2 linked regions of the Homo sapiens genome follow. The protein of the gene in region 1 purifies or fractionates together with the protein of each later gene. This does not show direct contact. Each region holds a gene or a part of one and is shown in the gene's direction. Other genes may lie near its edges.

What was found.
Region 2: the proteins of CDH24 (region 1) and CEACAM8 purify together in Homo sapiens (co-immunoprecipitation; one large-scale study listed by IntAct). This does not show direct contact.

Annotation. Positions count from the first base shown.
Region 1 is NC_000014.9:23,047,240-23,051,055, reverse strand, and holds part of CDH24 (cadherin-24), read left to right. Parts: intron 1-1,112; coding exon 1,113-1,234; intron 1,235-1,317; coding exon 1,318-1,429; intron 1,430-1,780; coding exon 1,781-2,029; intron 2,030-2,576; coding exon 2,577-3,076; 3' UTR 3,077-3,595; intron 3,596-3,681; 3' UTR 3,682-3,816. UniProt on the Homo sapiens protein: Cadherins are calcium-dependent cell adhesion proteins. They preferentially interact with themselves in a homophilic manner in connecting cells; cadherins may thus contribute to the sorting of heterogeneous cell types.
Region 2 is NC_000019.10:42,588,326-42,592,141, reverse strand, and holds part of CEACAM8 (cell adhesion molecule CEACAM8 precursor), read left to right. Parts: intron 1-2,406; coding exon 2,407-2,685; intron 2,686-3,103; coding exon 3,104-3,358; intron 3,359-3,737; coding exon of another isoform or gene 3,738-3,816. UniProt on the Homo sapiens protein: Cell surface glycoprotein that plays a role in cell adhesion in a calcium-independent manner. Mediates heterophilic cell adhesion with other carcinoembryonic antigen-related cell adhesion molecules, such as CEACAM6.

The DNA of each region.
Region 1 (3,816 bases):
TACATAGCTTTGTGTGTGTGTGCGTTTCTAGTCACTGTCTTCTCATTCTCCTGCCAAATCCTGCTCCTACCCGCACCCAGACATCACCTAGCAGTGCTGGGCCCTTACCGCAGGGAAGAAGTAGACCTCCTCCCCATCCTGTCTCTGGGGTATCCCAATCCTTTTAGCCAGGCGATCCACTCAGCCTCCCCTGCCCATGCTGCATCCTCAGCCCCTTTCCCCAAGGCTAGTCAGCTATCCCTCTGCCTAGGGGAAAGACTAAAGGAATTGGGAGACCTGGCCTAAGAGAGGTGACAGGGAGACACACTTTGCATTCTCTCTTGGAAGGCACTGGCAGTGAGAAGCAAGGTAGGGTAGTGGTAGGGAGTCACCTGATGAAGGGATGGGTAAAGATGGGGCCTGTGTCTGGCTGTGGTACCCAGGCTGGCCTGGGCTCTGCACCCTGTAGATCATGCAGCACCTTTCTACCCAAGATAAGTGATGCTCACTGCTGTACTACAGCCTCCCAGACCTCTGATGGGATGTGTGTGTGTGTGTGTGTGTGTGTGTGTGTGTGTGTGTGGTGTGTATATGTGTCTGTCCACCCCACTGGTGCTGTGCATGGCCTCTATGCATGAAAATGCATTCTATGGGCACTGGGTGTTGTCGGGGGATGTGGCACCACATTCACTATGCATATCAAACATTTGCTTCATGTACATTGCATTTGTTTTAAATGTTGAGTGTACATTGGATATATGGTATGAATGTGTTTTGTATATTCATGGCTGTTGTCTGCATGCAACTCGTATGCACCTTCCCTCTGTCTTTCATTTATGCTGCATGTGCCCTGCATGTGGGTTATTGTATATGTGTATCATGGGTGCGGCATTCCTGTTGAATGTCTATTGTGTATCGCACATATCTTGGGTACTACATGAATATTGTATGCACTTGGTATTGTTCCATTCATTCTGCAACATTGTTTTCTACCTGTACATTACATGCATATTTCATGTGTTTCTTGTGCATGCTATATGCTTCATGTGGCATCCATGCCCATGCACCACATATGTTACGTGTAAACTGTGTGGTGTGTGTGTGGCGTGTATGTTTTGGTGTTCTGCCTTCAGACAGTTCTGCACAGGCCTCGCGCGTGCAAGTGGCCATCCAGACCCTGGATGAGAATGACAATGCTCCCCAGCTGGCTGAGCCCTACGATACTTTTGTGTGTGACTCTGCAGCTCCTGGCCAGGTGAGCAACTGAGGCAGAGGGGTTGGGACGTCCAGGCCTCCAGCAGCCCACTCCATACAAGGCCTCTCTCTTCTTCCTCCCAGCTGATTCAGGTCATCCGGGCCCTGGACAGAGATGAAGTTGGCAACAGTAGCCATGTCTCCTTTCAAGGTCCTCTGGGCCCTGATGCCAACTTTACTGTCCAGGACAACCGAGGTAGGTGGCCTCCTACAGCCATGTCCATACCTGCCTCTGTCCCCTTCTCCTCCTCCTCCACCCCTAGCCCAGCCTGCCTGACCCCTGCCCCACCTGCCTCGGCCTTCTACCCAACAGAAGATGGGTGTGGACTTGTACTCATTCGTTGGCTCTTTGTAAACCTTCCCCATGGGAAGCTGGCTCTATGGGCTGGACCTATGGGCTGGCTCTATGGGAAGCTGGCTCTATGGGCTGGACCTATGGGCTGGCTCTATGGGGGGCTGGCTCTATGGGAAGCTGGCTCTATGGGCTGGACCAACCCTACCTGGAAGGTGTCCCAGAAGATACCTCAACACCTTCCCTCTCCCACAGATGGCTCCGCCAGCCTGCTGCTGCCCTCCCGCCCTGCTCCACCCCGCCATGCCCCCTACTTGGTTCCCATAGAACTGTGGGACTGGGGGCAGCCGGCGCTGAGCAGCACTGCCACAGTGACTGTTAGTGTGTGCCGCTGCCAGCCTGACGGCTCTGTGGCATCCTGCTGGCCTGAGGCTCACCTCTCAGCTGCTGGGCTCAGCACCGGCGCCCTGCTTGCCATCATCACCTGTGTGGGTGCCCTGCTTGGTGAGTCAGGCCACAGTGGTACATAGCTGTGCGATCTGGGCCTGCAGGGGTGTGGAGAAGAACCAGGCCTCTGGACACAGGGAAATCCACCTTAGGGCTTGAACGACCCTCATACCTGGATTTTCCCACCACCTGATGCATCCAAGAGAAAAGCTCTGGCCTCTATCCGTGACCTGCCAATCCATAATGACAATGACAAGCCATAACAATGGTTTACTGAGCCCCTACTCTGTGCCAAGTATAGTGCTGGGCACGTCACTTGTGATATTTCATTTTATTATGTCAACAACCCTTAGAAGTAAATATATTTTCCCTATTCTCCACATAAGTAATCTAAGGGGCAAATTGAGGCTTCAGAGAAGTCTAGCAACTTCCCATGGTCACATAGCGAGTAAGGGCTGAAGTCAGGATTCAATGCAAGGTTTGCTAGATGTCAGCCCCTAAGCACAGGGCTTCTGTCACCTGATGGGTCAGCCTTTCACATGGAGACAGGCCGCCCGCTCCCGGCCCTGCTGGCTCAGGGCCTGTGTGCGCGCCTCTCGCGCAGCCCTGGTGGTGCTCTTCGTGGCCCTGCGGCGGCAGAAGCAAGAAGCACTGATGGTACTGGAGGAGGAGGACGTCCGAGAGAACATCATCACCTACGACGACGAGGGCGGCGGCGAGGAGGACACCGAGGCCTTCGACATCACGGCCTTGCAGAACCCGGACGGGGCGGCCCCCCCGGCGCCCGGCCCTCCCGCGCGCCGAGACGTGTTGCCCCGGGCCCGGGTGTCGCGCCAGCCCAGACCCCCCGGCCCCGCCGACGTGGCGCAGCTCCTGGCGCTGCGGCTCCGCGAGGCGGACGAGGACCCCGGCGTACCCCCGTACGACTCGGTGCAGGTGTACGGCTACGAGGGCCGCGGCTCCTCTTGCGGCTCCCTCAGCTCCCTGGGCTCCGGCAGCGAAGCCGGCGGCGCCCCCGGCCCCGCGGAGCCGCTGGACGACTGGGGTCCGCTCTTCCGCACCCTGGCCGAGCTGTATGGGGCCAAGGAGCCCCCGGCCCCCTGAGCGCCCGGGCTGGCCCGGCCCACCGCGGGGGGGGGGCAGCGGGCACAGGCCCTCTGAGTGAGCCCCACGGGGTCCAGGCGGGCGGCAGCAGCCCAGGGGCCCCAGGCCTCCTCCCTGTCCTTGTGTCCCTCCTTGCTTCCCCGGGGCACCCTCGCTCTCACCTCCCTCCTCCTGAGTCGGTGTGTGTGTCTCTCTCCAGGAATCTTTGTCTCTATCTGTGACACGCTCCTCTGTCCGGGCCTGGGTTTCCTGCCCTGGCCCTGGCCCTGCGATCTCTCACTGTGATTCCTCTCCTTCCTCCGTGGCGTTTTGTCTCTGCAGTTCTGAAGCTCACACATAGTCTCCCTGCGTCTTCCTTGCCCATACACATGCTCTGTGTCTGTCTCCTGCCCACATCTCCCTTCCTTCTCTCTGGGTCCCTGTGACTGGCTTTTTGTTTTTTTCTGTTGTCCATCCCAAAATCAAGAGAAACTTCCAGCCACTGCTGCCCACCCTCCTGCAGGGGATGTTGTGCCCCAGGTCAGTGCCCCTAGACTGTGGGGCAGGGCGGTGGATGAAGGCTCCCACTCCCCACTGCCTCTAACGTGGCTCCCCTGTCCTTACAGACCTGCCTGCATGGTTCCATCCATTACTCATGGCCTCAGCCTCATCCTGGCTCCACTGGCCTCCAGCTGAGAGAGGGAACCAGCCTGCCTCCCAGGGCAAGAGCTCCAGCCTCCCGTGTGGCCGCCTCCCTGGAG
Region 2 (3,816 bases), on another chromosome or scaffold:
ATGGTCATCCATTGGCTCAAATCCTTTCTTCCTGAGCATCCAAAGCTCAGAGAAGTGAGAGCAAATAAGCAACTGATTCATTCGTACTCCAGAACTAAATCACCTGCCCCAACTGTCAGAGCCAGTGCGAGGAATGTCCAGGCTCCCTCTAAGATCCTAACCCCCCTCACTGAACCTGAAATCCTGTTTCCTGATGTGTTGCTGTCACTCCCATGGGAGGACAAAAGAGAGGACTTTGCTTTCTCTCCCCACTCACACCCTGCACCAGGACAGGCCCAACATGTGACACACACTCGATCGTTCTCTCATGGAGAGGGAATGAATGAGAGAATGAATGATGCAAAACCTCTTTAGAGACTAGATCCTGGATGGCCAGGCAGGTGCTGTCTGATGGGCTTACTGCCTGTTCCACACACATCTGTGTCCTCATGATGGCACCATTGTGATAAGATGGGGTCCTTCAGGTGGGGAGACGCATGAGCCACTGGCGTCTCACTTAGACTCTGTCCAATTCGCAAAAACCTAATCCAATTCTACTTGTGTCTCCCGAGGTCAAGAGAAAATGAAGAAAGCATTGCGCATACCTGTTTTGGGCTCCTCCCAATTTTGCCTAACTCTGCATAGGAATTAGGGGCAGGAAGCTTTCTAAATTTACTAACATAACACACATCGCTTCTCCTAATTTGGCATTGTTCCTCCCTTTATGGAATTGACACACCTAAGACTTCCTCTCTGACCGGTTCTGTCCTCTTAACAGGACTCACGTGCCTCCCTCTACCTGGGAGTTGCTAATTTCAAGCGAACTTCAGGATCTTCCTTTGAGCATAATGTGATCCTGCTGGAATTCACAGGACGCCTAAACCTTATTTTGTTATCAAGAGAAATACTCCTTCCACCAATTGATTTTAGATCTGTGGACAATTAATAGCAATTTCTACTTATGGAAAAAAATTCATGTTTCCTCCAATTTTGTTTTTGACTATAGTCAAAACATAATATCTAAACTCCTGACAAATTTTAAAATGCAAATTAGAGTTACACATTGACCATCAAAAATCCCAAATCTGAAATGCTCCAAAATTCCACATTTTTTGGCCACTAACGTGATTCTCAAAAGAAATGCTCACTGGAGCATTTTGGATTTGGGATTTTCAGATTTGAGATGCTAAACCAGTAAGTATACTGCAAATGTTCAAAAATTTATAAAAGTTAGAAATTCAAAACACTTTTGGCCCTAAGCCTTATGCATAAGAAATACTCACTGTATATGAGCTATAGGCACAAAGCTGTACAGCAGATCTCTAGAACCTCCTCATCCTGTGTAACTGAAACTGCAGACCCATGAACAACTCTCCATTCCCCCCACTCCCAGCCCATAGCAACCACCATTCTACTACGTGATTCCATGAGTGTGACTACCCTAGGAACCTCATGTAAGTGGAATCCTACAGTATCTGTCCTGTCAGTGGCTTATTTCACTCTGTATAATGTCCAGTAGGAGAAAATATTTGCAAAACTTCTTCCCAAATTTCTCTCTCATAACTGTCAAACACCCACGGTCCATGAGGGCCAAATTTCCAGCACTTCAGGCTCCCCCTCCCCACCCGTCAGTTTGCATTTGCAAATGTCCACATGTATTTATGGGAGGATCCACAGCTCCTCATCTGCCCCCCGCAGGGAAAGAAGGGACATTAAAAACCAAGGAAAGGAAACAAGGTTCTGCTCCAAAGCCACCTGTTCTTGCCTGTCCCCTTCACTCCTTCTAGATCATTCCTTGGACTCTGCTCTATCTTTAGAGGTCACTGACTCAAGTAAGTCACGATGAAACACCTGGGAAAAACTGCCCCACCTTGTGGCTCCACTGCCTGACGACGGAACCGACCTCCAGGCTTGCCCCGGCCTCCCCTGTGTTATTTCTGTTGAAACACCCAGTCAGGAATTAAGGATAGTGGCATGTCCCATCATCTCCCATCTCTAGAATGTTCTTGGAAACAGAACCCTCAAAAACACACCTCGAAGGGCAAAGTAGGACTGTGAAGCTGGAAGGGACCCAGCACCTACATGTTCCAGGTGAGGACCCCTAGGTAGGCCAGGCAGGCAGCCGGTCAGGGAGGGACCAGAAGAGGCACCAGGATCTGTAACTCCCAGTCCTGGGTCTGTCCACAACCCAGCGCTGCTGCCCAATTCACATTTGAGAAAGTCTGTGTTTCTCCCACACAGAGAAGGCGGCCTCATGGTCTCTGAGCCCCGATCATTGTGCATCTGTCTTGTGACACACACACCCACCGTGGGCTTTTAAGGACTCGAGTAGGCTGAGAGGTGGGAGATGCCAACTCTAATTGAAATTTGCCTGTGGAGGAATCAAAGGTGCCACACAGGGCAATCTTCTCTCTGTTTTCTGCACAGCGGAGACTCCCAAGCCCTCCATCTCCAGCAACAACTCCAACCCCGTGGAGGACAAGGATGCTGTGGCCTTCACCTGTGAACCTGAGACTCAGAACACAACCTACCTGTGGTGGGTAAATGGTCAGAGTCTCCCGGTCAGTCCCAGGCTGCAGCTGTCCAATGGCAACAGGACCCTCACTCTACTCAGTGTCACAAGGAATGACGTAGGACCCTATGAATGTGAAATACAGAACCCAGCGAGTGCAAACTTCAGTGACCCAGTCACCCTGAATGTCCTCTGTGAGTATCTTCTGTTCCTCTGTGGCCCAGGCCACCAGCCCAAATCCACGCAGCCAGAGGCCAGGCCTCTCAGTCCCTCTCAGCTCCAAAAATGCAGATTCCCCACCCACCCCTAGAAACCCAGCTCGTCATGACTTTCTGCCCCAGGCAAACATGGGTAGGCCTAGCCTTGACCAAGAATAAGAGGGGAGGGGGTGCTCCTGTCATGGGAGACTTGGAGTCCACATCTTCTGATGGGAGAAACAGGTAAATGTCTCGGACTCTGTCTCAGTAGAAACAGCGGGGGTTTGGTTGGGGTTGGTTGGGACTTGGCTCAGGTTTGTGACTTGGCTCAGAGGGACACTGTGGCTCTTCCACAGACCAGGAGCTTCCCCTTCCCTCTGATGACATCACCTGTGACTTTATTCTTTTGCTCTAGATGGCCCAGATGCCCCCACCATTTCCCCTTCAGACACCTATTACCATGCAGGGGTAAATCTCAACCTCTCCTGCCATGCGGCCTCTAATCCACCCTCACAGTATTCTTGGTCTGTCAATGGCACATTCCAGCAATACACACAAAAGCTCTTTATCCCCAACATCACTACAAAGAACAGCGGATCCTATGCCTGCCACACCACTAACTCAGCCACTGGCCGCAACAGGACCACAGTCAGGATGATCACAGTCTCTGGTAAGTGGATCCCTGGAGCACTGGCAGTATGTTTTCTGGTAGAGTCTATCTGGCTTTCAGAGATGAGCCAGAAAAAAAGTTTTATTCCCAGCCTGTGTCCAACAGCACAAGCAAATCCCCAACTTTTCTCCTAAACCCTCCCAGTTTATCTCTATAGACTCTCTTCTGCCTGTTTTTCTGATTTCTCTTGGCTGACCTCGGGGCTGACCTGAGAAACGTGGAGAGGGGCCTTCGTCAGCCCCAGAGCCCTATGTCATGGAAAGGACTTCACCAAGGGGGAAGAAGGAGGGTCCTCAAGGTCAAGTTGCTTTTCTTTGTCACCAACACATGGCACCCCTGTTTCTGTTACCCCTTTGTTTTCTTTTACCTATGCCATTAGCTGCAAGAAACATCCAAGGCTTTGAAACAAGCCCACAACGTTCCCCAAATGGGAGGAGGAGCCCCTTGGATGACGGAGG